Linked DNA regions of Homo sapiens: region 1 is linked to region 2. The links come from fine-mapping of genetic effects on gene expression. Tissue or cell type: prefrontal cortex. Region 2 holds a variant in brackets; the other region holds the start of a gene. All regions are shown on one strand. Distances are between the middles of the regions.

The links. PIP is the estimated chance that this variant, and not a neighbour inherited with it, causes the effect.
Region 1: it holds the start of LINC01923, and the variant in region 2 is fine-mapped to the expression of LINC01923 in prefrontal cortex (ROSMAP, PIP 0.95).

Annotation. Positions count from the first base shown.
Region 1 is chr2:198,367,682-198,383,146 of GRCh38, forward strand. LINC01923 (long intergenic non-protein coding RNA 1923) reads right to left here and starts at 7,416. Exons shown (of 3, transcript NR_110267.1): 1 at 7,202-7,416; 2 at 6,795-6,936.
Region 2 is chr2:198,295,619-198,311,083 of GRCh38, forward strand. LINC01923 (long intergenic non-protein coding RNA 1923) reads right to left here. Exons shown (of 3, transcript NR_110267.1): 3 at 3,745-6,198. Among named protein-coding and RNA genes, the nearest start is that of LINC01923, 72 kb to the right of the region's middle. RefSeq lists a silencer at 14,087-14,381. The variant T/C (reference allele first, on the strand shown) is at 6,138.

The sequences.
Region 1 (15,465 bases), 72 kb after region 2:
TTCTACTTTCTACTGGTTGAGTGAAAATAGATGGTTACATCAATGCATATAGTAAATTGATGGTGGCCCAGGTAATCAAAAGTCTTGAAAAAATAATTTTAAGAAAAAGATGCACTTCATACAACCTTTTTTTTTGACTTTCAAGAACTCTTAGTTTAGTAAAAGCTACTCACTACTTTTAAGAGTTTTCCATTTCATTCAACTGTTCACACTGCTGAACTGAGTGACATGGGTGCCACTTTTCTTGTAGAAAGGAAAATATAAGATTTACAAATATTTTCTGACATTTTTGATAAAATGTACAACATAGTTTAGTTGAAGAAGGCATTTCCTACTTAATGCATTTTAAATTATTTGTGTTTACTTTTACCTCTTTCCTATAAATCTGTAGTCATTCTGGCAAGCTAAGTAATAGGCATCCTGGTGGTTACTGCTCATTAAAAGGGAAACACAAGTTTGACTCGAGGGAGAGGGCTTAGGTGGGAAAAGCCATTCCTTATACAGTGATGGTCTTCACACAGTATGGTGATAAAAGCTCAATGGAACTACTCTGGGTCATTCCTTTATCATCATTTGGTGTCGTTTTTCCTTCTTCATTTGCTGATAAAGCATATTTTCTAATGCCAAAGATGGATTACTCCTGCTATACCTGAATTACAAATACAAGGGCTGTATCAGATGCTGTTGTTTTAGCATCAGTGTAAGCCAGAATAAGTATTTAAAGATATTGCAGTAATGATCATTCATAGAAAGAAAGTAGAACTTTGTTAGTGTCTCTGTGATTTAGAATTCAATGAAGGAAAGAGCTCCCAAGGTATAGAATTATTATTGCTTTTTAATAGCATCTGAGTAATTTTCATTTCTTTTCTTTGTCCTTCAAGTGTAAGAAAATATCAAGAATATTCCTTCCTTGTGGGATAAATCTCACCTACTTTTTTTGTAATTTTTGCTTGCTTCTTTGGAATGGAACTGAGTCTAGGTAGTATAGTTACATTAATGTGGGCAGTTTGATTTTTAAAAAAGTCATTTAGTCAATGGTCACCACCTAGTTGGTCAGAATGTTCTCAGGGTGATATAGTAAGTGCTGGCCATAGTTAACTTAATTAGCTGACAAACCATGAAACCTCTTGGTCACCTAGTCATGTAGACATGGTATTAAACTACAGACCACTGATGCATATATCTGAGAACTATGTGAAAGCTTTTATTGACTAAAGGAAAGTTTACAGCACAGTGAAATTATATTACTTAATCTGTTAAGTTATGTGTTTTTATAAATACTTTGGAAATATCTCTCTGGTTAGTGCTAAGGAAATCTTCAAGTTAATATTAAAAAATTCACCAAGTTAATGGTTTTCAACCATATTATACCCAATTATCCATCACAAAAATATATTTTATGATGCCCAATATAGTAATCTTAAATGAAATTAACAGATAATACTTACCTACTTGTGCACATCATTGAAAGAGGATCTATGATGTTGTAACTGTAATATGTAGGAAATATAAAAGGGAAGTATATAAGGAGATACTATGTATGTAAGCTGTAAATGCTCTGACACCACTATTCTAGTAGATGGAAATACACACTATAAGTCTAAATTGCCACTTAGGTACAGGATTATCCCTCCTGAGAACCATTCCAGGAGTCAAGGGGTTTCCAGTGGTCTAAAAATATGTCTATTTTGTTCTTGCTCCATACCAGTTCTAAACATGGCATTTGGCATGGAGTAAGTGCTCAATAAACATGTATACCATGAATGTTGAATGAACAAAAGAAACAAAACAAATCTTTCTCCTGCAAGAATTTATTTTCTGGTTAGAATGTCAGGTCAGTTCAGTAACACACAAAGCGAGGGTTCCTTGGTGCCCATGCATCCCAAACGGGCTGCGTGGTGCATGCTGTGGGGAACTTGAGGATGAAGGCACCTACCCTGACCAGCTGTGAGCTGAGAAGGACTGCTGTGGTCTCAGGTCATCCAAGCAGCAGGCCAGTTATGCGTCTCAACTACACTCTGCTCAGCGCACTTCTGTGCCAGGTACAGGCCCAGGTGCAGGGGACAGATAGGTTAATAAGGCCCTGTGCTCCTGCAACTGCCATTTGAAGGTGTTTCCAACATCAGAACGTGTCAGAAGCCCTTCAGGGATGGTTAAATGAATATTCCCAGGCCCCACCTCAGAGATTCCGATCTGCATTTTAACAAGTTTCAGAAATAAATTGTGATGTAAGTGGTTCATGGACCTCACTTTAAGAAACATCAAATGAGGTTGACAATAAACCTAAAATGTGTTCTTTATGAGAATTTTCAATATTTGGGAAATGAATGGCAACCATGGGTGAATGTTGAGAATTCTTTTGACAGGAAATTTCTTACATTCATTTTATAAATCAAGTGAATGCAAAAGATGAGAGTGTATGTTTTTAAAACTTCATTTATAAGACTGATGCTGTTTGTAAGACATTATTGTTTTAATATTCATGTGATAGTAAAAATGGTCTTGATTATATGTGATGCACTTATATTTGTTTTCTTTTGTTAGTATTGCAGATGGAAAGGTAAATGGAAATATATTGAGAAGTATAAGATGGTGTTATAAGGCAGCTTTTAAGGTTTCTAATATCTTATAACACCATCTTACACTAAGATTATTTCTAGAATTTTAAAAAATCACCTTAAAATTCCTTTTTAAGAAACACCTTAGGATTAGCCAAAAGTGTTTATGGTTTATCTCCTTAGTTTAAGATTTTATTTTTATGTACCTTGTACCTTTTATGTACCTTGTCTGAAGTTTTTAACTGTAATCAAACTGTATGTATTAAAAACATACACTCTTATCTTTTGCATTCACCTGATTTATAAAATGAATGTAAGAAATTTCCTTTCAAAAGAATTCTCAACATTCACCCATGGTGGCCATTCATTCCCCAAATATTGAAAATTCTCACAAAGAACATATTTTAGGTTTTTAAGTGTAATCAAGTTTTAAACTGTAATCAAAATAAGAGTATATCTGATGATACATGCCCTTTTAGTAGTATATATCTGACAATATTTTAAATATAGGTAGCTATCTTAGTTACAGAGAAGCCTACATACCAAAGACTAATACACGTTTTTTGACTGTATATATTTGAATGCATTTTTAAAAATGTAATTGGGTGAAAGCAGAATAAAAGACTTTCCAAGTTTTATTATGTATATTTAATAGCTCAACATAAGGGGGTAAATGGACAGTTACTCTGGTAGAAAAAGACCTATAGCTGCGGATAATTCCATTATATCTCCCTCTAGGCAAGGGGACCCACCCCCACTGATGCCTCCACACACTCCCAGGCCTCATCCTCATGAAAACAAATCAACCAACCAACCAAAATAACCCTAATTTTGAATCACAGATCATTAGCATTACTTACAACCATATTCAAATTAATCACAAATTCACATAAAAGCAATAAATTCATAGGTCAATTAATAGCTTTGTCTACATGATGTCAAACAAGGGTTTTATTACTATTTCTGAACTGAATGTTTTCTTTTTTAAAAATCTAGTTTCAATGCTATGAATACTTAGCTTTTTAAAAATCAAATAATTTACAGGGCCACGAAGATTATAGTTTTCTTCTTTTAAAATTAGTAATCATCTTAGCACATATAAAGTAAACAAAATGAGAAAACAAATGTTCAGTTTATTGTCTTAAGCTTGCAAATGATAAGAAGGCTGCCTTTTTATTCTTTGGAATAGTTCTATAGGTTATTAAGATAACAGAGGACTAGATGAATCTTTAGTGGGGTACGTATTTACAGAAAGTTTTCTAAAAAATGCTTTCTATGGAGAAAATCTTTTTGCTTAGATGTGCTATTTTGTGGGTATAAATTCAACTGGGTAGAGAGTATTCTGAACAAATCCTGAGTTGTTCATTTGTTAAATTTGATTTCCTCATTTTTTTATTTTATATATGACCACTGAAAAACTACAAAACAAAAATTTGGTTTAATTTCCATTTAGATCTTTTCCAAGGAGACTCAGTAATAGAAGTGAGCAAAGGTCACATTTTTGAAAGAAACTTTCTCTTTCTTATGTATTCTCAGAGTGTTGCCATCATTTATAAAGATGACCCAGCACATGTTATATTCAAATAGAAAAATGATTATAAACATCAACATGTGTAGATTTCCATAGACTTCCTGATATTCACAGGATGTGTAATACTCAAGCATCAACGTGTAGATTTCCATAGACTCCCTGATATTCACAGGATGTGTAATACTGAAGAAATGAGGTACGGTTACACACACACAGGCACACACAAAAGACTCAAGCAGAGCAGAGTCACGAGCAGTGGACAGTTGAGTATGGGACTGACTCAAACGAAACTGATAAAGTGAAAGTGTGTGAAGGCTATGCCTGGTGAGATCGGCCCATGGTTACACCAGATACAATAATAGGACACAGGCGAAGCTCCCTTCTGCCTCATGTTGCACTGAGAGTCCAAGAAAGTTTGGCAAGTAGACCCTGAAGTCCTGTCCAGATAATCCAAAATCATCACCCATGGAGCTTAATTCTGAATTTCCGCCCCAGACGAAACTCCGATTAAATTCAATGAGTGTTTCTCATTTTAGAAAGTTGTGCATGTGCATGCCATATTCTTTTCTTAGATAAAAACATACCCACAGCTCCTTCCATACAAAACGAAACCAAACACATTTAGAACACATGTAAGCCATTTCTCTATGGGAAAGGCCATTTGTGGTTAACACAGAAAGTATTTATGGTTTCACTGTTAATTGTGGTTTCTTTGTATTAGCCAAAAAAGGTAGCGTTTTTCATGTTAGAAACAGTATGAAAGCAATAGCCTTTCTAAAAAATATCCGCATTTTCTGGGGCATAAGGAAGTAACTGAATTTATGATATCTTCTAAACACCAAAGGAGTATATGCAACATAAAATTGTGTTTTCAATTTGAATAAAAGTTTATTCAAAATTATCTTAATTGTACTTTTGTACATTTCCACAAGATAAGACCATATAATCAACATTGTATATTTAAGGCATTTGATTTTTTATTTGTATTTGTTATCTAGGAATAATAACATTTATTTCTGAATCAATGCTATTCTTGTAAATTATTTCCTTTCTTCTGAAAATTGTTAATTTTACAACGTGCATGTTTATAAACGTGGATTCATTTACCTAAATCAGTTGGCTGACCTGCCTAATCCCTTCCCTCTGTCTTCCTCTTTCTCTCTTCCTTCTTTCTTCTCCCCTACTCTCCTCTCCCCTCCCCTCTCCTCCCCTTCCCCTTCATTCCTTCCAAAATGCAATACTGCATTTTGGCAAGGATTCTATAATGAGAGTGAGTGCATTCAAGAGGTTAATTACATGTAAAAACAGTCAGTTTCATTAATTCGAATGTACTATACATTTTTGGGGCCTATATGTTAATATTTTTTAACAGACATTTCCACAAGTGCTGCATTTTAACATCTGAATGCATCATGTATATATTATTAGAAGAGGGAAAGAAGAGACAATTGTGATTATTAGGTCAATAACCAGAACACTTAGGAAGATTAATATAGCAAGCAGTTTTTTGTAAGTACATTGGCTTTTATTACCTACAGGAAAGAATATATTTTCTAATTTCATTATTATGCAATTTAAAAAATTTTAGAAGAAGCAATATATAAATATTTGATTATATCTTATTAAATTCCATAAGAAAAAGAAGCCATCAAAACATGACCCTAATTGTCTCTTTCTGAGTGTGAAAAACATTCTTTATGAAAATGCTTGGAAGTGTAATTTATCAATTTAATCACATACATTTATGTATATCTCCTGAGTGTATGTGAAATTGAGTCTAAATGAACATTTTATGATGTTAAACGCATTTTTCCAAAGATCTACATTTATTCAAAGATCATGTAAAAGGCTGTTAATTTGGATAAATACTATTCTGTCCATTGCTAAGTATTTATAAAATTCTGAGTTTAACTTAAAGACATCAAACATATTGGTACATTTAAATTGCACCAGTATTCGTTTCTAAAAATCTTTAATAAAAAATGTAAAGGTTTTGAATTATATTTTGTCTCCTTTCTCTTACAAATGGAAAATTAAACTGGAATATATTGTTATGTATGAAATTTATTAACTATGATGAGGTTATATACTATATAACTTTCTGCCTCTCAAATATTATTGTAATATATTTTATATAGTGTGTAATATTGAATCTTAGTGTAGTAATATATTTTGACATTTATAGATTTATATATTTTTAAATCTATTCATAAACATAGGATATGTTTTTCATGTCTTTTTGTGATTTTTAGTTTGAAAAACATAAACATTTTAAGCGATAACATTCATAGAAGGCAAATACTTCTCTGTGGAGTCTTTACAAAAAGGAATAAAACCTCAAACTAGAATTCATTTAACTTCATTTTAATAGATATGTTACGTTTTATTTTTGTTGCCGACATCTGAAGTAAATAATTTCTGAATCCAGGTAGTTGTTTTTGCACAGCAGAATAAAATATCTTTTTTACTATTTTACTATTTTCATTTGTATTCAAATATTGATATGAAGTAACCAAAGAACAAAACAGACTTTACTAATACATTCTTCAGTTGCGGGCAATCGGTGGTGAGAGTCAAAAAGAAGAAAAGTCCAAACAAAGGTTTTTCATTTCTTGCTGTTTACAAATATGTAAAAACAAGAATTCATAGTGTCCATATATTTCCTAGCCTTTAGTGTCACATTTTGTTCAGCAAAGGTTTCTTACCTTTTTTCATTGATGCCTTATTGAGAATCCTGAAATACTGCTGCTCAGTTCTTTCCTCTTCATCTGCTTGCATTGTGCATATCAGTCTGTAGGGGGCACTCCTCAGCTACCACAAAGACTTGTGATAAGTCCTTTCTGTGGTCTGAAATGTATTTAATACTCATTATTTTATCAAGGCACTTAGTTTAAAGAGAATTCATAGTTTATCTTTAAAGCATATATAGCCATAATTGAGGAAAAAAACCCTCAGTTTCAAGATGGGCATTTGGATTTCCGAGGATGTTAATAAAAATTTACAAAACTGCATTGAACTTTGGTAAATTAGTACTTTTCAGAGCTTCCTTCTTTCTATTCTTTTCTTGGAGCTCAGGGTGGATTTTATAATACCCAGACTTTTATTACTATACCTCGAGTCTTGTTGTCTCTTTGCCTTGAGGGCTCCCAGAGAGCAGAATGTAGAGTGATCATGATTTACATGTGGGAAGAGGAACCACAGAGTTTTTACATAGAATTACATGCCCTACACTGGAGCTTATAAACAGCTTATCTTTAACGGGAGTGAAATATTGAATTTAAGATTGTGTGTGGCCTTCTCTACTCCCTTTCCTCCCTTTCTCCTCCCATCTCCAACAGAATCTACTTGGGTGGCAATTCTAAGAACCCCTTCCATAATAATGACGTGGTCCTCTCACATGGCTGTATCTTCCAGGTTCACATCAGCTGTGGGTGCAGCTGCTTTGGCTTATTATAGATTTCCATAGTTACCTCTCAGAGAGACCAGCAGCATTAACTGGTCCAACACGTTGGGGGTTGACTTTCCACATTCAGCCTCTTACTTGCCTCCGTGCCAGTGCTTCTGCGTCCTGCTGTTACCATGGTTGTACTCTACTCACCCTCTTTGAGACCAGCCCCTCCTCTTGATCAGAGAGCCCCTCACTCCTCTGGAGCCTGACACTGGATGCCACTTCAGCAGTTGCTTCGTCCTTTTCCTTATCATCAAACGTTCCCTTTCTCTGCTGTAATTTCTCCTATCTCTCTTCACCCCACTTCTCCTGCAGCCTCTCCATTTCTCAATTCATTTTATTTTTTATTTAATTTTATTTTTTTTGAGACTGGCTCTCACTATGTTGTCTGGGTTGGTCTTGAACTCCTGGGCTCAAGGGATCCTCCCACCTCAGTCTCCCGAGTAGCTGGGACTACAGGCATGCCCCACCGCACCTGGCCATTTTTCAGTCCATTTTAGAGCAGAACCTCTCAAAGGGCTGTCTGTATCTGATGTCCTAGGCTTTCCACCCCTCCTTCTTTCCTTTCCTGCTCCACTGATGCTCTGTTCCTAAAATCAAGGACCTCCATGATGCTAAACCTAATGGTCAGTCCTCAGCCCTCATCTTTTACTTTATTTTTTTTATTGCTGCCTCCTATACAGTGACTCAGCCCTCATCTTGATTGACATAGAAGCAGCATTTTATTTTTCCCCATAGGGGATCACTCACTCCTCTTTAAATGATTTCTTTCACATGGCTCTGGTTGTCTTCCTCCCTCACCAGCAGCTCTTATTCCACTCCTTTGCTAGCTGTGTCTCATCTTCTTTTAAAAAGCTTAAAAAATATATATTTTTTTAAATGAAGATGGGATCTTGCTGTGTTGCCTAGGCTGGTCTGGAACTCCTGGACTCAAGCAATCCTCCCAGCTTGGCCTCCCAAGGTATTGGGATTACAGGTGTGAGCCACCACACCCAGCCTGTATCTCATCTTCTTGAACCCAGGGAAGCTCAGGTGTCTCTCTCTACACTCGCTTTCTAGGTTAATCTCATCTCTCAGGCTTTACATACTGTCTATATTCTGAAAAATCCCAATTTTTTCTTTCCAGCCAGGACTACTTCCCTCAACTCCTGGCATGTGTATTTAACTTCTTTTTCACTGGACATTGCTGTTTGGATGTCCAACGGGCTTCTCAAACTGATCTCCATCCTAATCTCACAAAACAGGCCACTTCTTAACAGTCCTTCCTGTCTTAGAAAAGGGAATTTTCTCAGGATAAAACCTCAGTTTTAAGACAGTAATCCAAGCCGCTGTCATCATTTCCTGTGTCCATTTCTCCTCACTCCAATACACCGACATCAAATCCATAGAGGTTAAATATCAGTTCATTTCAGTCCCTTTCTCAAAACCCACCAGTGGCTCTCTACGGAACAGAGTGACGGCCACAGTGCTGTTAATGACACCAGGGCTCTACTGGATCTGACCTCTGAGATGCCTCTTGGCTTCTTCCCTTACTCTGCTCCCTGGCTCACTTCACGCCAGCCACATGTCCCACTTTGCACTTGCTTGATAATCCAGGAAAATCCCTGCCTCCAAGGGATTTGTTATTTTCTCTTCCTAGAGTGCTCCTTTCCCTGATACCTTCATGACTCACTTCCTCACTTGCATAATATCTTTCCCCAAAGTCATCTATGTACTGCGTAGGTGTCTCTGACCACTCTTAAAAATAGCAGCCCTCAGCTGGGCGCGGTGGCTCACACCTGTAATCCCAGTACTTTGGGAGGCCGAGGCAGGTGGATTGCCTGAGGTCAGGAGTTCAAGACCAGCCTGGCTAACATGGTGAAACCCCGTCTCTACTAAAAATACAAAAAATAGCTGGGTATGGTGGTGCACGCCTGTAGTCCCAGCTACTCGGGAGGCTAAGGCAGGAGAATTGCTTGAACCCAGGAGGCAGAGGTTGCAGTGAGCCAAGATTGTGCCACTGCATTCCAGCCTGGGTGACAGAGCAAGACTCTGTATTAAAAAAAAAAAAAACAAAAAAAGCAACCCTCCCTAGTGGACTCGGCATTTCACACAACTTTCTGGCTTTATTTTTTTCCATGGCACTTATCACCATCTGACTTGCCATATCTCTCACCTGTGTATCATCTCTTGTCGCCATCCATGTGTACGCCCCAAAGGGCAGGGGTTTTGTCTGTTGTGTCTGCTTTTGCTTCCCCAGTGCCCAGAGAGATAACTGACATGCAGTAGGCTCTTCGTAATAGTTGCTGAATGAACAAACCCATTTTAGCATATCATCTGTGAAAGGATTTATGTCCAAATTTGGAACTCAGCCAGGATTTGAATTGTATTTTGTCTTTTCTGTTTCAAAGCTTGCTTTCTGGTTTAAATTAGTTCCTCAAAGTGATGCTACTTTATCTTGTGTTTGCACCCTTTGTTTTCTTCAGTTGACTTTGAATACATTGGTCTTTTTGCCTTTAATCAATATTGGATGCAATAATTTTTATTTTTTATTTTAAAAATCTTTTATTTCAACATTCAGCCAGATAGTTGAAGATGTAGTAATTTTTGGAGGCCTCACCATCCCCTCCCCTTTTGGGGGCCATTTTTTTTATGGGATTAGGAATTTTGGGAGTTTAGGAAAGTCAAACTTCATGAGGAATTTTTAGTAAGGAAAACTTTGGGTGTTTTCAAGGACTTCCCCACTTTTGGTAAAATGATAAATCTCTCCTGACGTAAACAAACTTTCTTGAGGAAAAACTTTTTTGTTTTTAATAGAGAAAAATTCTGTAAAAGGCTACTTTTGGGGTATTTGGTAGAAGCAGTTGGTCACAGGCCAACTACTTAATTTTCTTGCTCCTCTCTGCCTTCTCCCAATACCCCAATAACCTCAAGGTTATTGTGACCATATGGGATCACCTTTAAATATTTCATCTATAAAAGGTAACTTGTTTAATTCCATGCATCAAATTATATGAAGAAATTAATTATGTGCATCAAATTATATGAACAAATTGTGCTACCCTATCTAAGTAAATGTAGAAAAAGCTGTGGAAAAAGAAATCAACATTTGTTTAGGTCAAGCATTGTGCTAGGCCTTTTTCATACATCAACTTTTTATTTTTTTTTTTTGAGACAGGGTGTCACACTGTTGTCCAGGCTAGAGTGCAGTGGCATTATCACTGCTTATGGCAGCCTCGACCTCCCTGGCTCAAGCAATCTTCCCCACCTCAGCCATCTGGATAGCTGGGACTACCGATGCATGCTACCATGCCAGGCTAATTTTTTATATTTTTAGTAGAGATGGGGTCTTGCCATGTTGCCCAGGCCGGTCTTGAACTCCTGGGCTCTAGTGATTCTCCTGCCTCAGCCTCCCAAAGTGCTGGGATTACAGGCATGAGCCACTGTGCTCGGCCTTAATACAACCCATTATACAGACAAAGAAATTCAAATTTGGAGAAATTGTATAAGCTTCCCAAGATCTTACATCTAGAAAATTAGAATACTGGGACTCAGAGATTTGTTGGTTTTTCAGACTTGTGTTTAAGAAGCTACTTAATTTGCTATAAACTCTGAAATGATTTTTAGGTAGTTTTCAGAAAGCATTATGGGTGTATCCTAAATTTTCAGAAAGTATTGTTGGTGTATCCTAAATTTTTAAACTTTCTTACATAGCCGTGTGAGATAATGATGATTATTTATTGCACTGGGTCCTTTTCTAATCTTTTACAGGCATTAGCTCTAATTTTTACAATAACCCCAAAACAGTGGTGTTATCATCATTGCTATTTTACAGAGAAGAAAACTGAGGCTTATGGAAGTTAAGTAATTTTCCTTATGTTAAAGATGCTGATACCTGGGCTTCTACCTAAGATGATACATCAGATTTTTACATCTTTTACCCCCTCACCTTATTCAGACATCTATTCAAATATCATCATATCAGAAGGGCCCTCTCTAACCAAGCTGTCTAGATAGTTCTGCCTCTAGTGGGTGTCCTCTTAGTCTGCTTAAGTTTTCTTTAAAACCCATTACCACCTAGACATTATATATTTATTTATTTGTTGTGTGCCTTTCCCAGCTAAAACATAAGCTATGTGAGAGTAGAAATGTTGTCTATTTTTATTCTCTGCTGTATCTGCAATGCTAGGATACACAATAGTAGACACACAATAAATACCTGTCAAATGAATGTGAACAAGCGTGGCACTGAAAATGTAGGTGGTAAAATCAGATTAATGTTGGTGAGTTGAAAACAGGAGATAAAGGATTCTTTGAACAAAAGAGAGTACAATAGAGAGGACTAGAACAGAATAGAACAGTCAGATAAGAAAGATTGAAGAAATGTTAGAATTTAGGTCCACTTGAAGACAAACCTTGTGAACATTGAAAGGAAAGTCATCCTTTTACATAAGGCAATAGAATTTCTAGAAGAAAGTAATGTATATTTTTGCATCGTAGAAGAGTAATAAAACTCTCAGTATCTGTTGTTTAGAAAAGTCAGATTTCAAAGTAAAGGAGTATTCAGAGCCTGGACTGATACTTTGACTGGGGAATAAAGAAAAAAACAGACTATTTTGGGGGCTACTTACAGGAAGAAGTTTTGGTTGTAGAGTTAATCTGAAGATGTAAGCTACTGAAGAGTTGATGATATTTCTAATATTTTATACTTAAAGAAAATGGGACATTTTACTTAGTTTTTAGGCAGTTGCAGAAAATGAATATTTCTTGAAAAATAAGTTAGGAGGTTTGCCATTGACATATTGTTTTGAGAATTTTAGTGAACTACTTTGTTCATAAGTTTTCCTTGTACCTGTGGGGTGGGGGATAGATTTGAATTAAACACAACATGATAGCACAAAGCAGCCTTTGACTGTCAAAAGCTGGTGCCATGTTTTTTCACTCTCCCCATTCTGGGCTTTTCTATGTTCTTTTCTTTATCTTGTTTTTCCTTTTTGTTCCATCTTCAATGCAATAATAATAAAAAATAATTATTATAATAAAAATGATAATAACTGTTAACATTTGAGTACTTTGTGCCAGGCACTATTCAAAGCACTTCACATTACTCAATGAATTTAATTATCTCGTTAGCTCTAAGAGGTAGGCACAATTATCACACTCATTTTACAGAGGAAATTATGACACAGAGACAGCAAGTCACTTGCTAAAGGTCACACAGCTAGTGAGTGACCCAGCCAGAATGACGAACCCCGGAAGATGGTTGCCAGGGTCCATACTCTTAACCACTAAGCTACCTGTTTTTTTCCTGATGACATTATATTTACATTGAGCTTTTAACCTTTGTGAAATGCTGTTACATACACCAATTTTCTATTTTCTTCCCCTGCCATGGCTTGCCACTGACATTACTCAGCTCCTGCACAGCAACTAGATGACACTTGGCATGAAGGAGCTTCCCTGCCTTGGCTCTCTAGGCACAAGTCATCAAGAAGTCTTTGAATGATTAAGTGATCATTATTACTTGATCATTTAGCAGAGAAAAATCAATCAGAGCCCTTGGCAGAGGCAGCTTTTAGGAGAGATGTTTAATTTTGTTGATAGGACTTAAGCAGATAGAAAGATGTATGCATGAATGGAAAGTATTAAAACCCAAGTCTTTAATGGTAGGGAGAGGTGCAACAGGGGCTCCATGTGCCCTTTTTTAGGAGCTGAGAAATCCTGAATGTACTGGATTGTGGAAGAGTGGAAGAAATGTAGCATTTGAAAATTAATAAAAGAGAAGAAAATAAAGTTCTTAAAAAATGTCAGGGAATATATTTCAGATAATAGTGGAAAGTTTGGTAATTTAAATGAATAAATATTAAGAGGCAAATATATAATTAATCACAGCTAATCATCCATCCATCCATCCATCCATCCATCCATCCATCCATCCATCCATCTACGAAGTCACATTCTATACACTTGGCAACTGGAGATAAAAAGGAAAACAATGAATTGATCAGGAATGGCATTGCAGGCATCCTATGAATCATTTACTTTAACAGAATTAAAAAGACATTTCTTTTATTGGAAATAAAATTTTCAATATTGTTACAATTTAATATACATGGACACTATCCCACATACGTTATCATTGTCCAGTTTTCTTGTCTAATTTCAAACATGGGGCTCTTTCTATTCCTCATGTTCAATATTAAGAGCATGCACTGGCTGTGAGAACTGACATGCACAAATTTGGGTCATGTTTGAGGGGGAGAATGATGACCCAACCTTTATAGGTACATACTTATGACTGATGATAATATAATCTCTGCTCCCTGGAAGTCGTATATACGGTTTGGTCTATATTGGGAACTTGTCCATAGACAGGTAGATTTCTTTTCTCATAAGCCCTCCATAGTTGTGGAGAACCATTTAGGAACATGTAAAGACAACTGTGAAATTAACACATTGTGAAAGGCACTTGATAATAGTGAAACTAAAATCAAAGTTACCTCTGCCTGGTGCCAAGAGAAACTTATCCACAGAACTTTGTATGTCTTATGGATCCAGCATGTGGTATTAAGTGAATATTTGTTGAAAGTTTGGCTATAAAAATGAAGAGATCTTTTCCTGTGCAAGAAGAAGCATTCATGCATTCTGTGTCTTTTAGACTGGAAGCATGCATTTTGCTATTCTCAGCTTTACCTCTCTTCCTTTGTCATAGCATTTTCTTTTGCACATGTACACCATTCTTTGCCTGCTACATAACAGATGTGTTTCTCAGCTCGTTCTTCGTAGAGCTAGGCCATATTTCTGAAATTGAGCTTGAGTTTATCTTTACAGAGTTGTTTCTTCTCGTCTTGACTATAGTTTTTTTCCAGGACAGCATGACTTGGCAGGTATTTGGGAGTGTCCACGAGGTCTGTAGCTTTCTGTATTGTAACAAGCCTACATTGTGTATGAAGGGGCACACTTAATAGCCCAAGGCTTCTGTGTTGTTGATCTGCATTTCATTTGCATTAATTTTTAGTGAGGGGGGAGTATTTTTATTTATTATTTTTTTGCCCTCATATGCCTAGGACTATAGACTTTTCGTTTTCTAGGCATTACACAACAATAATAGAGGCATGCTATATGTGATACCATGACAGCATGACTTCAAAATGACAGGTTTTTTTCTTCCATTTAGGAAAAAAGTCAACTCCTTTTTGTTGCTCTTCTTCTGAATCCCATTGTATGAAAGAATAGTGACTAATATATAAGGCCGATAAGGGATAAAGAAAAGCTCCTGAAGTAGACTGTCTTATCTAATATGATATAACACTGAGATTTAGGTGGGAGAAGAAAACAGATGTAAAATGGTACCTAGAATAACATGGAGCAGGAGGGAGGAAACTGTTCCCAACAGGAGGCAATTAAGTGTTTGCTGTATACTATGGGTCCAACTGAACCTTTGACACTTTTCCAAAGGGGAAGGCAGAAGGGAGAATATAAATGGCTACCAAAGCTAGTGGCTGGCTTTGGAATGGGCATCTCATATGGTCTCCATTTAGCAATGCTGTAATAAACCAATGAATTGCTATGACATTTTGGAGGGTTGGAGAAGTGCAACATAGAAATACAGAACACTTTGGAAGCAAAATCACCATTCATCCCAGACATGAAGAGGTGCTAGTCTGACAGAGCCTGTATCTTCCAGTGATATCCAGACTGTGGGCTGAGGATGGGTTTGCCATGGTTAAAATCAGTACTCCAAGACTTGTGTGTTTAAAATGGAAAAAAGACTGGTGGTTGGAAACCTCATTTCTCTTTGTTACTGTTTTTGAAACATCAGGACATCAGCTTGTCTCTTGGGACTGTGCCCAGGAGGTCTAATTTTGCTGAAGGATCCAGTCAAGTCTTTGGAGTTAGTTTAGTATTCTAAATTAGTTATATTTTGATTTTACTTGGATTTGTGGAAA
Region 2 (15,465 bases):
GTCTGGTGGGGATGTTCTGTGCCCCAGGAGCTTAGAGTCTAGATTTGGCTTCCAGCTCTCTGATCCTTCCATTCTCTGAGATTCTCCCCATTTCCCTTCCCAGCCACCCCATCTTCTTAATTCCTCTGGGATCTAAGAAAAAATGAAATAGAACAGGAGATGGAACTAAAGAAAACTTCTCTGGGTAAGGTGGGCCAGCAGAGAGAGAATAGAAAGGAGATTTTTAAAAGGGGCAGGGTGGCCGGGTGCAGTGGCTCGTGCCCGTAATCCCAACACTTTGGGGGGCTTAGGTGGGGAATCACTGTAGCCCAGGAGTTTGAGACCAGCCTGGCTAACATGGCAAGACCCCATCTCTACAAATAAACCAAAAAAACAAAAATTAGCTGGGTGTGGTGGTGGGTGCCTTTAGTCCCAGCTACTCGGGGCTGAGGCAGGAGGATCCCTTGAGCCCAGGAGGTCAAGGGTGCAGTGAGCTGTGATCACACCACTGCACTCCAGCCTGGCAACAGAGCAAGACCGTGTCTCAATCAGTCAATCAATCAATGAATAAAAATAAATAAATAAAAAGGAAGGGAGCAAAGTGTCTCACAATGTAGTACCCAGGGAAGCAGATGGAGCTCTGGAAGGAGGAGGAGAGAGGTGATGAAGAAGACCATGAATTAGTGAAAAAAAAAAAAAAAAGAAAGAAAGAAAAAAAACATGTAGTAGGAAAGGAAGGTCTCACCTTTTGAGCATGCATTCATTTTTTTAAGTACCCATACACTGAATATCCTTGTCCTGGTTCACTGAAAAACATTGTTACTGAGCTCCTGCTGTATATACTGGAGGTCTCCAGTGTGCACAGATGCATCTCCCACAGATGCATACTACCTAGTCTCTCTGTAAGATTATTTTGATGGTCCCTGGAAGCAGTCTTGTTTTTTCAGGACTAAGGTGAAAGTAACTTAAAATTTGCATTAATCAAAATTAATGAAAGGAAATCCATGATGAACAAAATATCAACAATTTATATAAAGGCAATATCAATATCCTAGGGCTGAAACAACAGATCATTTATGTTCCTATCAATAGTGAAACTCATATAGATTTCTTATAATTAAAACAAAAGGAAGGGTATAGGGAAAGACACCAGCCAAGGCAGTCTTAACTATTCACAGTCTGCTCAGTTGTGCAGGCTCAGTTGAAACAGCTGGTCTAGGGTCTGTGGCCGCTTTAGGGATAATTCTGAGGTGGGTTCGTGCTGCCATCTAGTGGTCATATTGCATTATACGCCGTCTTCACTTCTGGAGGCTCTCTTGGGGGAAAACGTGATAAACCTGAAAAGATCCAGGTCAAGGAGGTAGACGAATGTGAGAAATTTTCCGGATTGACAGGTTTTTGGATGTAACCAATTATTTGATATTCTGGTTTTTTTTGTTCTCTTAAAATACGAATTGGAATCCTCTTATGTTTGAGGAGCTGTGCTAGATGCTGGATATGGTCTGGTGAATATGCATGACCATGTCTTTGTCCTGGGAGAGCTCCTTGAAAGAGTCCAATTCACCCACCAGCCCATTTCATTAAAAACAAAGAACCCTGGAGAGAGTTGGAGAAAGTAAGTGATTGGTTTAAAGTCACATAATTAGTTAATTGGGGAGTCAGCCTTAGAATCCAGCTGTGTAAGCTTTTCATTCTATACTGTTGTCTTCTCACCTTAACAGAAACTTGTCTTTAAGATGTTGAGCCAAGCATTTAAAAGTTACTCCTCCAAATCCTTCCTGAGAGGAGTAGTTGTAGCATATTTCAGATACAGCTGCATTTCTGCTATTAACTCTCTAGTTTAAGTTATAGCAAGCAGTGCTGCTAAGAAACTTACTGCATAAGTACGTAAGAGTCAAAGTGATACAAAATTGACAAGAGTCATCTTTGTTAAATGTAATTTACTTAACACTAGAAAAAGGGAAGTGATAACTTACCCTTCGTCCTTGTGCCAGCAAGGGTATCTTTTTTTTTTTTTTTTTAATAACTGAGCTGCTTCCCATTCCAAATTTCATTAAGACCCTGGCTTCAAGGGATCATCAATGATCCCTTCTCCTACTAATCTCTTGAAAGTAGCTTCATTTTTCTAGGTGCAGGGCACTATATGTTCACCAGCAATACTTCTTATATTGAGTTTTTTTTTGGTGGGGGGGGACAGGGTCTTGTCTGTCACCCAGGCTAGAGTTCAGTGGCGTGATCTTGGCTCACTGCAACTTTCACTTCCCAGGTTCAAGCAATCCTCCCACCCCAGCCTTCTGAGTAGGTGGAACTACGTGTGGTCCACCACTATGCTTAGCTGTTTTTTTTTTTTTTTTTTTGAGATGGAGTTTTGCTCTTGTTGCCCAGGCTGGAGCGCAATGGCCCGATCTCGGCTCACCACAACCTCCGCCTCACAGATTCAAGCGATTCTCCTGCCTCAGCCTCCCAAGTAGCTGGAATTACAGGCATGCGCCACCATGCCCGGCTATTTTTTTGTATTTTTAGTAGAGACGGGGTTTCTCCACGTTGGCCAGGCTGGTCTCGAACTCCTGACCTCAGGTGATTAGCCCGCCTCGGCCCCAAAAGTTCTGGGATTACAGGCGTGAGCCATCGCGCCCAGCCTGCTCAGCTGATTTTTAAAATTTTTTGTAGAGACGAGGTCTGACTATATTGCCCAGGCTATGTTGATGCTACTTGTTCAAGATAAAATAATAAAATCTAACAAGGCGAGATAAAAAATTTTGATTAAGTGCTAAGTGGCATACATATTTAATATATACTGTATTTAATTTTTATTATAAAAGCTTTCAAACATACACAAATATAAAGTTTGCAGTGAACCCCAATGTATCCATCACCCAACTTGCCGACATTGGCATCACTCATTTAGCAAGATTCTGCTGTATTGTTTTTTCTATCCTGTTTTTCTTCCTTTTTTTCTGAAGAATTTAAACAAATCACAGACACTTTACCCTTATTACACTTTACTCTTAAATAAAAAATTAAAATTCCTCAAAAATATGGTTCTTTGTTTATATATAGACAGTCATATGCTGTATAATGAGGTTTTGGTCAACAGTAGAGTGAATATATGATGGCAGTCTTGCACAATTATTATGGAGCTGAGAAATTCCTATCAGCCGACTTGTTACTGCCATTGTAGCATCATAACTCAATGCATTACTCTTGTGTCTGTGGTGATTCTGGTGCAAACAAACCTACTATGCTGACAGTCATATAAAAATCTAGCACATACAATCGTGTATAGTAAATAGTCCTTGATAATGAAAATAAATGACTATGTTACCGGCTTATGTATTTACTATACTTTCGATCATTATTTTGTAGTGTACTCCTTCTACTAATATAAAAAAATTAACTGTAAAACAGCATCAGGTGTGTCCTTCAGGGGGTATTCCAAAAGAAGGCATTGTTATCACAGATGACAGTTCTTGCATGTTATTGCCCCTGAAGACCTTCCAGTGGGAGAAGATATGGAGGGGAAAGACAGTGATGTTGATGATCCTGACCCTCTGTAGGCCTAGGCTAATGTGTGTTTGAGTCTTAGTTTTTGATAAAAAATTTTGAAAAGTTAAAAGAATTAAAAATAGAAATGAGCTCATAAAATAAAAATAAAGAGAGAAAATATTTTTGTACACTTAGACAATTCATTTGTATTTCAGGCTAAGTATTATTATAACAGTCAGAAAATTTTAAAAATTAAAAGGTTTGTCAAGTAAAAATGTTACAGTAAGCTAAGGGTAATTTATTATTGAAGAAAGAAAACAATTTTAAAATAGATTTAGGGTAACCTAAGTGTACAGTGTTTATAAAGTCTACAGTAGGGTACAGTGATGTCCAAGGGCCTCACATTCACTCATCATTTACTCACTGACTCACCCAGAGTAACTTCCAACCTGCAAGCTTTATTTATGGTAAGCAACCTATACAGGCACACCATGTTTTATCTCTTATACAGTATTTTTACTGTACCTTTTCTATGGTTAGCTATGTTTAGATACACAAATACTTACCATTGTTTTACAATTGCCTACAGTATTCAGTACAGTAACAGGTTGTACAGGTTTGTAATCTACCAGCAACAAGTTATACTATATAGCCTAGGTGTGTTGTAGGCTATACCGTCTAGGTGTGTGTAAGTACACTATGATGTTCACACAATGATAACAGTGCCTAATGACACATTTCTCAGAAGGTATGCCCACTGCTCAGTGATTCATGACTGTATATATATGCGTACACACACACACACACATACACACACACACACACATATATATATATGAATTTCTAGATCTATATAGAAATTGGCTAATGCATGATTATGGAGGCTGAGAAGTCCCAAGACCAGCAGTTGCAAGCTGGAAACCTGGGAGAGTCAATGTATAGTTCAGTCTGGAAGCCAGCAGACTCAGGATACAAGATGAGCTGATTTTCAGTTTGAGTCGGAAGGCAGAAAAAGAACAATGTTCCAGCACCAGAAGTCAGGCAGCTTGAGATCACCGTATTTTGGGGGAGGTTCAGCCTTTTTGTTCTATGTAGGGCTTCCACAGGTTGGATGAGGGACACCCCCACTGGGGAGGGCGGTCTTCTTTACTCAGTCTACTGATTCAATGTTAATCTCATCCAGAAACATCCTCACAGACATATAAAAAAAAATTTGACAAATGTCTACACATCCTGTGGCCTAGTCAAGCTGACATATAAAATCACCTGTCACAGTAGTGTCTACCAGATTTGTCTTCTACAGGTGCTGTTTCCCTGGGGGAATGAATGAGGATTCCGTGTGTGATATTCTGTGACTGTGTCAATGTCCTGCTCCCCAGCATTTTATCCAATGGAGTCATAGAGCTTAAACTGCTAAAAGGTGCTAGAAAGTGCTTGGGTTAGTTGAAAAGAGATAAATAACTTCCTTTAATGTTAAGAACTTCCTACAGAGTCCAGTTCAAGGTCAAGATCCAGACTGGAAGGCTAAGGGTCAGAGAGCGATATGAATCTGACAGAGTGACAGTCTTGAGCCAGGCAAGGGCAGGCATGTGGCTCTCCCGACTGGTGGCCCATGCTCATGGAAACCCAGATTTGAGGAAAAACTGTGGGAACTTTCAGGTTGCTCTTCAAACTCTCCCCAGAGCAAGGGTGCCAGGGCTCCTGAAGAGAAGGTAGGAGAGGGTGGTTACTTAGCTCAGCAGGAGTCTGAGATGGTGAATGTAGCCCTGGCTTCAGCTTGGAGAACTCTGGGACAGTTCCAGGGGAAAGGACTGTCACTCTGCTGCATAGTGACATCTTGTTTTGCAAATAAGTGCATTAAAGGGACTGGTTCTGGGCTTTCCATCTCTGTCACTGTATGCATGGAGCCTGGGAGGTGGGACAGATCTGTGGCAGGAGAACAGGGGCCAGGAACCATCTCCTTGTCCTGTCCTATTCATCCTCAGAACTATAATGGACCCCAACAGAGTAACCCGCCTTTGCAGAGGAACGAACTGTCTGAGCACTAGAAGACTCTTTTTTTTTTTTTGAAAGAAGCTTTTTTCCAGAATTCCTCCTCTCAAATAAACTTTGTTGTTGTTACTGCTGCTGTTTTAAGACACTATATAGGATTTTTAGCGAATCAGTGTCACTCACACTTCACGTTACGGCCTTCTGAATGTCTATTTCATCTTAGGTGATTTACATATCCTTTTTTCCCCCTTACTACCTCACATCCACTACTGTACCTTCCAGTTGCCTCCAATTTTTCGGCATTTTATACATTTAAAATAGAAATGTCACACCTTTTATTTTATCCTCACAATAACAAGGAGATATTGTTGCCAGTTTATTTTCTGTAAACTGAGGCAAAAACAAGTAAAATAACTCATTGAAAATTCCAGAGCAACAGCCCAGTTTTCCTGAACATCTGTCTTGTGAGAGGCACCCACAGCTGTGTCTCTGAGGGGCATCTTCATATTTTGCAGACTAGAAACTTCCATTATTGTCCTTTACTTAGGCTCAACAGGACTCAAGTTACTTTTCTAAGCAATATCTTTTTCTTTTCTTTTTTTTTTTTTTGAGACAGACTCTTGCTCTGTCACCCAGGCTGGAGTTCAGTGGCATGATCTTGGTTCACTGCAACCTCCGCC[T/C]CCTGGATTCAAGCAATTCTTGTGTCTCAGCCTCCCAAGTAGCAGGGATCACAGTTTTGACCTGGGAAGTATTGGAAATAGAATACATATAAATAATTATTTTAGTATGCCAGTTGTTCTTAATGTAAAATATTTGGCTCCTTTTTTGAACCAACTTGGTTCTACAGGCAAAGAAGAACCAGATTATTGATTTCTCAAGTCATCCCTTTGTTAGTGTTTGCTGGAGTTACCTGGAAAAAACTTGCATTTAATTCCCTCTTTGCCATTTCCTTGAATGTCCAGGCATGCACCTCACACCTGGCTAATTTTTGTGTATTTTTAGTAGAGATGGAGTTCTGCCATGTTGGCCAGGCTGGTCTTGAACTCCTGGTCTCAAGCAATCCACCTGCCTCGGCCTCCCAAAGTGCTGGGATTGCAGGCATAAGCCACCGCACCTGGCCAGCCATGTCTTTTCATGTTGATACATTGAAAAGTTTGCTCAGCTCTGCCTTCTAAAAGAAACTACAAAAGCCGTTGCTATGTCCTTCCCTATTTATGTTTTAAAAAGTTTTGACCTGGGAAGTATTGGAAATAGAATTAGGGGGAAGATCCATCCCAGGCTACCTTGTACATAAACTGATGTACAAGAAGTTCAAGCTAATTTACGAGAAACTTTACCTAGGAAAAGGGAATGAAATGTATAAAAATAAGTTATACTTAAAAAAATAAGTAAAGATTACAACTTTGCATAGTTTTAGAATGAGCAAAGATAGATTCTTCTCCATGAAATGGCCTTTTGAGTGTGGAAGGGTATACGAGATCACTTGTATAATACTTCATTAATCTTAATTATTAATCAAATGACTAGCATTTTAAAAAATAAGCAATTATACTAAATTTTAACATACTACTTATGGAATTTACTTTAAAAAGAAATTTTCCCCCAACATGTAAATAATACTTGTACATATAAACACTCTTAAACAATTAAAATCACAAGTTTAGGGCTGGGCACAGTGGCTCACGCCTGTAATCCCAGCACTTTGGGAGGCCAAGGTGGGTGGATCACTTGAGGTCAGGAGTTCAAGACTAGCCTGGTAAACATGGTGAAACCCCATCTCTACTAAAAATACAAAATTAGCCAGGTGTGGTGGCGGGCACCTGTAATCACAGCTACTTGGGAGGCTGAGGCAGGAGAATCACTTGAACCCGGGATGTGGAGGTTGCAAAGCCAAGATCACACCACTGCACTCCAGCCTGGGTGACAGAGCATGGCCCCATCTAAGAAAAAAAAAATCACAAGTTTAACAGATCAGATTACCTTACAAAGATTAAAAATCTTTCAAAACAGACCAAACACAAACTAACCAGGGTTCTAAAAGTGCTCAACACACTTACCACTAGAACAATTAAGCAGACAGTTTTATCCTTATCTTGATTTTCACCACAATGTTTATCCTCATTTTCATTTATTCCTGAGGTTGCCTCCTTAGGCTTTCAGTAAGCAATACATTTACTAACCCAAAGTAAAAAGAGATGTGGCCTCAGACCAGTAGAAGTTACAAGATTTGGCTGTCCAGTTCAAAACTCTTGGGTGGGTGTGAGACCTGCTTATTTAGTTCAGGAGCTTCAAGCCTGCACACTGATCATTAGGTTGAGTGTCTATTAATAATCAGGGCTTTCTTGTTATGTCTTCAGCCCTCATCGGGGATATAGGCTTTAATTTTTTGAAACTAGATGTCTTCCCCAGAAATAAGGTATCCTTCCAGCTTCACATGGTCCAGTACATAGCCATCGTCCTAACATTATGATTCACTGAGCTACTTTTTTTTAGCATCATTAGACGTGTGTGTTCCTTATTAGTATATTATAAGAATTTGTGGGTTATCTAAAGGTTTTGGCTCCTAGGAGATGAGGAAGTCAGTCTGCTTTATGAGCCCTCCTCTTTGGACCCTCTTTCTGTTTTGTCATTTGCAGCACATTGTTGAGCCTTCTTTCTACTTGGTCATTTTGTGTGACCATCAGAGGTTAAATGTGGGTCCGCTGGTTATTATACAAGACCAGAATATTGATCAGCCCTTCCTGTTCTTGATAGAGTTCCTTCTATTTCTGTGTTAGTTCAGCTCACTCCCAATTATTCTGTCCATTCTTCTTTTCTACTTACCCTGAACATATATATTATATACACACATATTTATAAACTAATATAGCAGCAAAATTTGTGCATATAATTCATATATGCATATGTATGTACATTGGTATACATATAGGCATATATACATCCCTTACCTCATGAAATAATGACAAACATAAATCCTGTTTTCATTCTTCTTTTGTATTATAAGTTTCCTTTTTTTTACTATTTCTTTTAGCTTTTCTCCTTTGACTTTGATTTTGAACTCAATCTTTCATAGATCAAATCATTCCAATTACCTAATACTATTTTTATTTTATACCTAACACTAATTTTATTTTTATTTAATTATAATGTAACAATAATAATTATTTAATATTTGAATTATCACAACTTTTCCATGAGAATTCCCTTAAGTCAGATCCTTTGATTTTTTAATCATTGTCACTATATTTTTCACATTATCCTCATTTTCTGGTACCTGCAGGATGTTCCCAACCCATTCTGAGTGTTTTCCTTTCGCTTACCAATTCTGAGTTTCCCCTCCCCACCACCTCCTCAGCCATCAGCCTTGCTGGCACAGGCTCTCCGTGATCACACCTGGGGCCCTAGGCAGTCCCTCTCTGCAGCTGTCTGTTTAGACACCTCCAGGGCAGGATATGGAATGGCTTTGCCTGCAATTCCAGCAGATCCACCAACGTCACTTTCACTGGCACCGTGAAAGCCTGCATCTTTTGCAAGACTTATATCAATTTGCAGCATGTAGCACTATACTGTTCAACATTTCCAACAGCAGACTATCTGGGGAAAAATTAATGAACAAAGCCTTGGCTTTATGTGGGGATGGACCCAGCCAGGAGCACTCCTGGAGTGGGGACTAATTTTTATAAGTTGTCAGATTACTAGTAAACACTTAATGTTATGGTGATTTTTGCTTTCCTAAACAATCTGGCATCTTCAGGAAGTCACACAATGAATGCTGGGTTAACAAAGATCTATTATACTAAATAAATCTAGTGCGCTAAATTTCAAGACTTTTAACCTAACCCAGCACTTAAAATCTAAGATTAATAATCAAGTAGAGTGGGCATTGGGAAGGCGTGAGCCACATTCCTGGGATCTTCTTTCTGAGACTGGGTATTGCCCAGGCTGTGAAAATAGGCAGACTCATGACCTGGGGCTTTCCTGTTCACACCTCAGCTCTTCCTGCTGGTGCTCAGCCTTTACTGGAGAAGGTAACTCGGTCTTTTCATCTTTTGAAGAACATGAGCACCCAGTAAGATGTCAGCAATACACATTATCAGGTTCTTTTTGCCTTCTGGTATCGGACCAGACCTGATGTGAGCTATTATACAGAGACCTTAGTGTAAGGACATCTCCCTTGGTAGTAAGCGCTGGGCTTTGATGATCTGAAGAAAAACTGAGCTGCGTCCCAGTTCTAGAGTTCCTAGAGAGAGCACACTCCCTCTCTGGAGATTCTATTTTTCCTGTAACTCATGGCAAAGTGGTCCCCTGTGGATTTTTTCTTTGCCAAGCTTCTCCCAACTCCACATCCCATTGGTTTTGCCCTAATTGTTATTTATTTAAGATAAAAGAAAATGTAATCCTTATGCACCATATTCCATAAATTTAACTAATAAAAATGTTGTTTTGTAAGAGCCTTTTGAAGTCCAAGTAAACTTTGGAATCATTTTTATGAGACTTTAAAAATCTTTCTTCTTAGGGGCAGGAAGTTATATTTTGCCAAGAATAAATGAACTCAAATAGCAAAGGGATTGGGCTTGACATGAGGTGCCAAACCCACAGTGTTTCAGTGGCTTCTGAGCTGGGCCAAGTGCGTTTTCCCAGTCCTGAGAGTCAGGACTGGTATCTAAAGTTTCAGACTAACATGTTATTACTTATAAATAATTATTTTAGTATGCCAGTTGTTCTTAATGTAAAACGTTTGGCTCCATTTTTGAACCAACTTGATTCTATAGGCAAAGAAGAACCAGATTATTGATTTCTCAAGTCATCCCTTTGTTAGTGTTTGCTGGAGTTACCTGGAAAAAACCTGCATTTAATTCCCTCTTTGCCATTTCCTTGAATGTTCTTACCTTCTTCATTCATAGTAATTTAAGATAATGTAATTTTTTTCCATGCCCACATTCTAAAACATTTTTAGGAGTGTTTCCAAAAAGAGAAGTGATGATAAAACAATATAATTAATGTTGGAAGCCATGAAAAATTCATAGACACTTCAAAGAGAGGATCAAGTTGTGTCATATGAGGGCTTATCATTCCCAAAGAAGCTTTTATGAAAGATGAATATGAAGCTGGGCGTGGTGGCTCACGCTTGTAATCCCAGCACTTTGGGAGGCTGAGGCGAGCGGATCACAAGGTCAGGAGATCGAGACCATCCTGGCTAACATGGTGAAATACTGTCTCTACTAAAAATACAAAAAATTAGCTGGGCATGGTGGCGGGTGCCTGTAGTCCCTGCTACTCAGGAAGCTGAGGTAGGAGAATCCCTTGAGCCAAGATTGTGCCACTGCACTCCAGCCTGGTTGACAGAGCAAGACTCCATCTCAAAAAACAAAACAAACTAAACTAAAAACAAACACACAAAAAAAGATGAGTATGAAAATTAATTAATAGCAAGTTCAGTTGTCATTTTAAGACAAGTTATTGATTTAAAAACAAAAATATTTCACCCGCCACCCTCTTCTCCACTTGCCGGCTCTTCGCCCATCAACAGAAGGTTTTCCAATTGTATCTTCTCGTTCACTGTCTCTTCCTGCTACCTCTGAACTTCTGTCACACATTCTATTTCAGTCTTGCTTATGGCTGCTGTTATCATCACCATTATTTTGTGCTACCACTTCCCAGGTTCTCCGTTACTCCAGATCTTTCTCTCAAAAACTCAGGCCTGATGGCCTCTGTTTTTCTTGAGTTCACTTCCTCTGTCAGTCCAGGATATCCTGTCTTCTTTCTTATCCCCTAATTCCAGCCCTACACACTCCCCAGGCACAGCCTTCCTGTGACCCTTGTCCCAGCCAGGCAGGCACCAGATCATTAACTTTAGATTTTCTGACCACTCCTCAAGGAAAGATGGAAGATCTTTTCCTTGGCTCCAGCTAGGGATGTGAACAGACACCTTCCCCACCCCCTGCAGCCCTCTCACTAATAGGTAGTCAGGATGGCAGCTTGCACCTAGGCATCTGGTGAATTCAATTCACTTCTCTCAAGTAATCACTCTGCAAGGGCCCACTGTGTGCCAGGCACTGGGCCATGTGCTTGGTAGGCAAAGATGAATCAACTAGGGGCTGATTATTATCACAGGATGCAATGCAAAGCAGCCTCCTGGAAGAGGCAGTGGTGAATTCTGCTGTGAGGGGTTGGCTGGGAAGGCTTTCAGACGCAGCAATGCTTGTACTGGATTTGCATGAGAAGGAGAAGAGAAGACAAGAGGAGACCATTCCAAGAAGCGGTAGCCACTTCTGTAAAGGCGTGTAGTAGTACACAATGGGGGTGTGGTTGAGGAAATACAAGTAATTATGTTTTAAAAGAATGACAGTGACAAAGGGGAGGCATAGTGACAGCCACCCAAAGGTTTAAGGGAGTGATGTGATTTGATTCCTCTGGCGAGAAGGTGGTGGTTGCACTGGGGAGAAGGGTGTGGGGAGGACTGGAATAAGGCTGACCAGAGAGGACACTGTCATAGGCAAAGGAGGTCACAGGCTAGAGAGTGACAGTAGAGAGGGGAGGAGGGGCAGATTCAGTGTAATGAGGGGTGCATGACCCACCTGGTACCTTGCAGTGAGGTTAGGGTGAGGCAAGCTCCTGCGGAATTAGAAAATCTCAGGCCATAGTTTCATTCAGGCCTGGAGAAGGTTGTAACATCTTAATCCTCAACTAATTCCCGCTTTGCCAGAACGCTATAACCTATTTATAAAAGTACCCTTGTCAAGGATACTTTTGACCTTGTTCTATGAGAAATACACACATGCATCCATATATATGCATACAGAGTATGTGTAAGATATATATATAAATATAAATATATATAATATTTATAAAACATATGGATTACGTATGCCAGGGTTCTCCAGAGAAACAAAGCCAAAAGGATGTGTGTGTGAGTGTGTGTGTTGTGTATGTGTGTGGAGAGAAAGAGAGTGTGTGTAAGAAATATTTATTATAAGGAATTGGCTCATGCCGTTATGAATATTGGCATTTTCAAAATCTGCTGTAGAATTCAGGCCTTCAACTGATTAAATAAGACTCGGCCACATTATGGAGGTTAATCTGCTTCATTCAAAGTTTATTTAAAAAAAAAAACCTTTGCAGCTACATTTAGACTAATGTTTGACCAAACAAATGGGCACTGTGGCCTAACCAGGTTGATACAAAATCACAGACACTTTGCTTTACCTTCTTCCCATGTTCCCCCACAAAAAGGTGAATTCTGGCTTTGTGTTTGTAATTTTGTACTTATCTGCAACTTTAGACTAATTCTCAGAGTCTGAAAGAATAAAGATGTTTTCTAAGAATAAAAGCATTATTTGTATATTTGCTTCTAACCCTATATTAAATATCTAAACTGCATTAATTCATTAAATGCATCTTTTTACTCATACCCTTTTCTTTAAGTATTTCTTATGTGCTATCCCATTAACAATGGATACAGTAAGAATTATCCCTGTTTTGCTGGTGATGATCTGTCCAAGGTCCCTGGCTGGTGCACACTTTGCTGTCAAACGTTCTTGTTCTACCTCACAGCAGCTTTTGCTGATTCCAGCGTAAAGTTGCTTCTGTTTGTTCTCAACAGTTGTCCATCTCGCTGATGACTTATGAGGTATTTATTTTGCCTTGCATCTTTTGGAAACTTCTGAAATAGTCCTTATTTGTCAGTTTGCCAGTCCCTTGCCTACGGAGTAAATTTTAATGAATTTACTTGGGGAATTTAATGATGCCTTTATTTTTAAATTTTTTAATTTTTCTTGAGACACAGGGTCTCACTCTGTTGCCCAGGTTGGAGTGCAGTGGCACAATCATGACTCACTGCAGCCTTGACCTGGGCTCAAGCCATCCTCCCACCTTAGCCTCCCAAAGTGCTGTATTACAGGCATGAGCCACCACGCCTGGCCCTAATTATGCCTTCAGGAGAAATAAAGCCCATGCCCCAGATGAACATGGTTATTTATCTGAATACAGTATAAATGTAAATTGGGTGGTTAGATTTTGATGAATGGTATTTGAACTAAATGTTAGTAATGAGAAATAGGGATAGGCCCAGATGATTTGTGATATAGATGCCAATTCATATTTTATGATATCTATACAAAACAAGGAAATAACCAAGGTGGATGCCTTATTAGATCAGAATTGGGGAAATTAACTTTAACACGCAATGTGACCTTTGTACTGTAATCACCAATGTACTAAGCTAATCTGCATGAAGTCATGTTTTGGGAATTTGCTTATATTTATTCATCTTTTTGGTGGAAATAGCAATGATGGTATTAACAATTGGTATCTCAAACAAAACTGTACAGATATAGTCATGGCAGAGAACATGCTTTATGGTTTGATTTGTAAAAATGTTTTACATAATATTTTTCAGTGGAAATCTGAGTTAAAAATTAATTTTTAAAGGATACCTAAGGGACCTACATTTTAGAACTAAAATGCTGAAGGATCAACAAATAAATATGAATACCTATTAACTATAAAAGCAAGAGAAAAAACTTTTCTCTATAATAATCTACAGAAAAAAGCTCAAATATTCAGGAAGTCAAATGGGTATAGAAATGTTTACTTAAAATTTGAAACCTTATAATATATATTTTAACCAAATAGTATTTTTACAATTGGTATAATTTATGTAGACAAAGGAGAGATTGATTTCTATCGAGTGCTCGCTTGCATTTTTGAGGGATTGAATTAGAGATGCCGTGGGGTGAATGGCTCGCAAATTCCACGAAAAAAACCTATCCCAAAATGGACACAAGAGGGCGCCAAAGATGCAGTAGCTGATGGAGATTTAATGGACGAATACTCTGGCACTTACAAATGAAGCCATGTTTATTTTATTCTGGGTAATATATTATGCACCTGCTTGTTTTATTTTTTAGACTGATTCGTGTCAAATGACTTTCCAGAAATATGACATGTGTACTGGATCCAGGCAGAACTAATCTTTCAATGTAGAAGTAGTACTATTTTGTACAAACTATATTCCATGATATAATGAAGTTTTACTTTATTGTACTCACTCTAAAGAGAATTAAGAGAATGTAACAAGATGGCACATACTTTTTCAAGCATTTTGTCTCTGTAACTCACTAGGAAACAGTTTTTGATTATGGGATATTTACCACACACACACACACACACACACACACACACATACCCATACATACAAATTCCTTTGTTACAGGAAAAGAGTAGTGAGTTTTTGTCTAGAGGATTCAGGGACTAATTTAGGGCTGAGACTTCCAGAAAAAAGAGGACACAAAATGATAACTGAAGGAACTAGAGTTTGCCGTGCATGAGGAAGAACTAAGTCATTTTGGTCCTATAAATGTTTGGCTTATATGTTATTTTGCTAGGGCTGCTATAAAGAAATACTTTTGTCATCACAAAATAAGCCAAAATGGGTGGCTTAAACAATGCTATTTAAATAAATAGCATTTATCTTCCCACAGTTCTGGAGGCCAGAAGTGCAAGATCAAGGTGTCAGCAAGATTGGTTTCTCTTGAGGCCGCTCTCCGTGGCTTGTAGATGCCCATCTTCTTATGATACCCTCACGTGGTCTTTTCTCAGTGCGCACGGAATCCTGGCATGTCTTCACATGTCCAAATTTCCTCCTCTTATGAGGACACCAGGGAGATTGAATAAGGGCCTACCCTAAAGGCCTTATTTTAACTTAAACACTTCTTTAAAGGCTCTAACTCAGTGGTCTCCAACCTTTTTGGCACCAGGGACTGGTTCTGTGGCAGAAAATTTTTCCACAAATGGGTGGGGTGGGAGGGGATGGTTTGGGGATGATTCAAGCATATTACATTTATTGTGCACTTTATTTCTATTATTACATTGTAATATATAAAGAAATAATTATACAACTCACCATAACATAGAATCAGTGGGAGCCCTGAGCTTGTTTTCCTGCAAGTAGATGGTCCCATCTGGGGGGTGATGGGAGACAGTGACAGATCATCAGTCATTAGATTC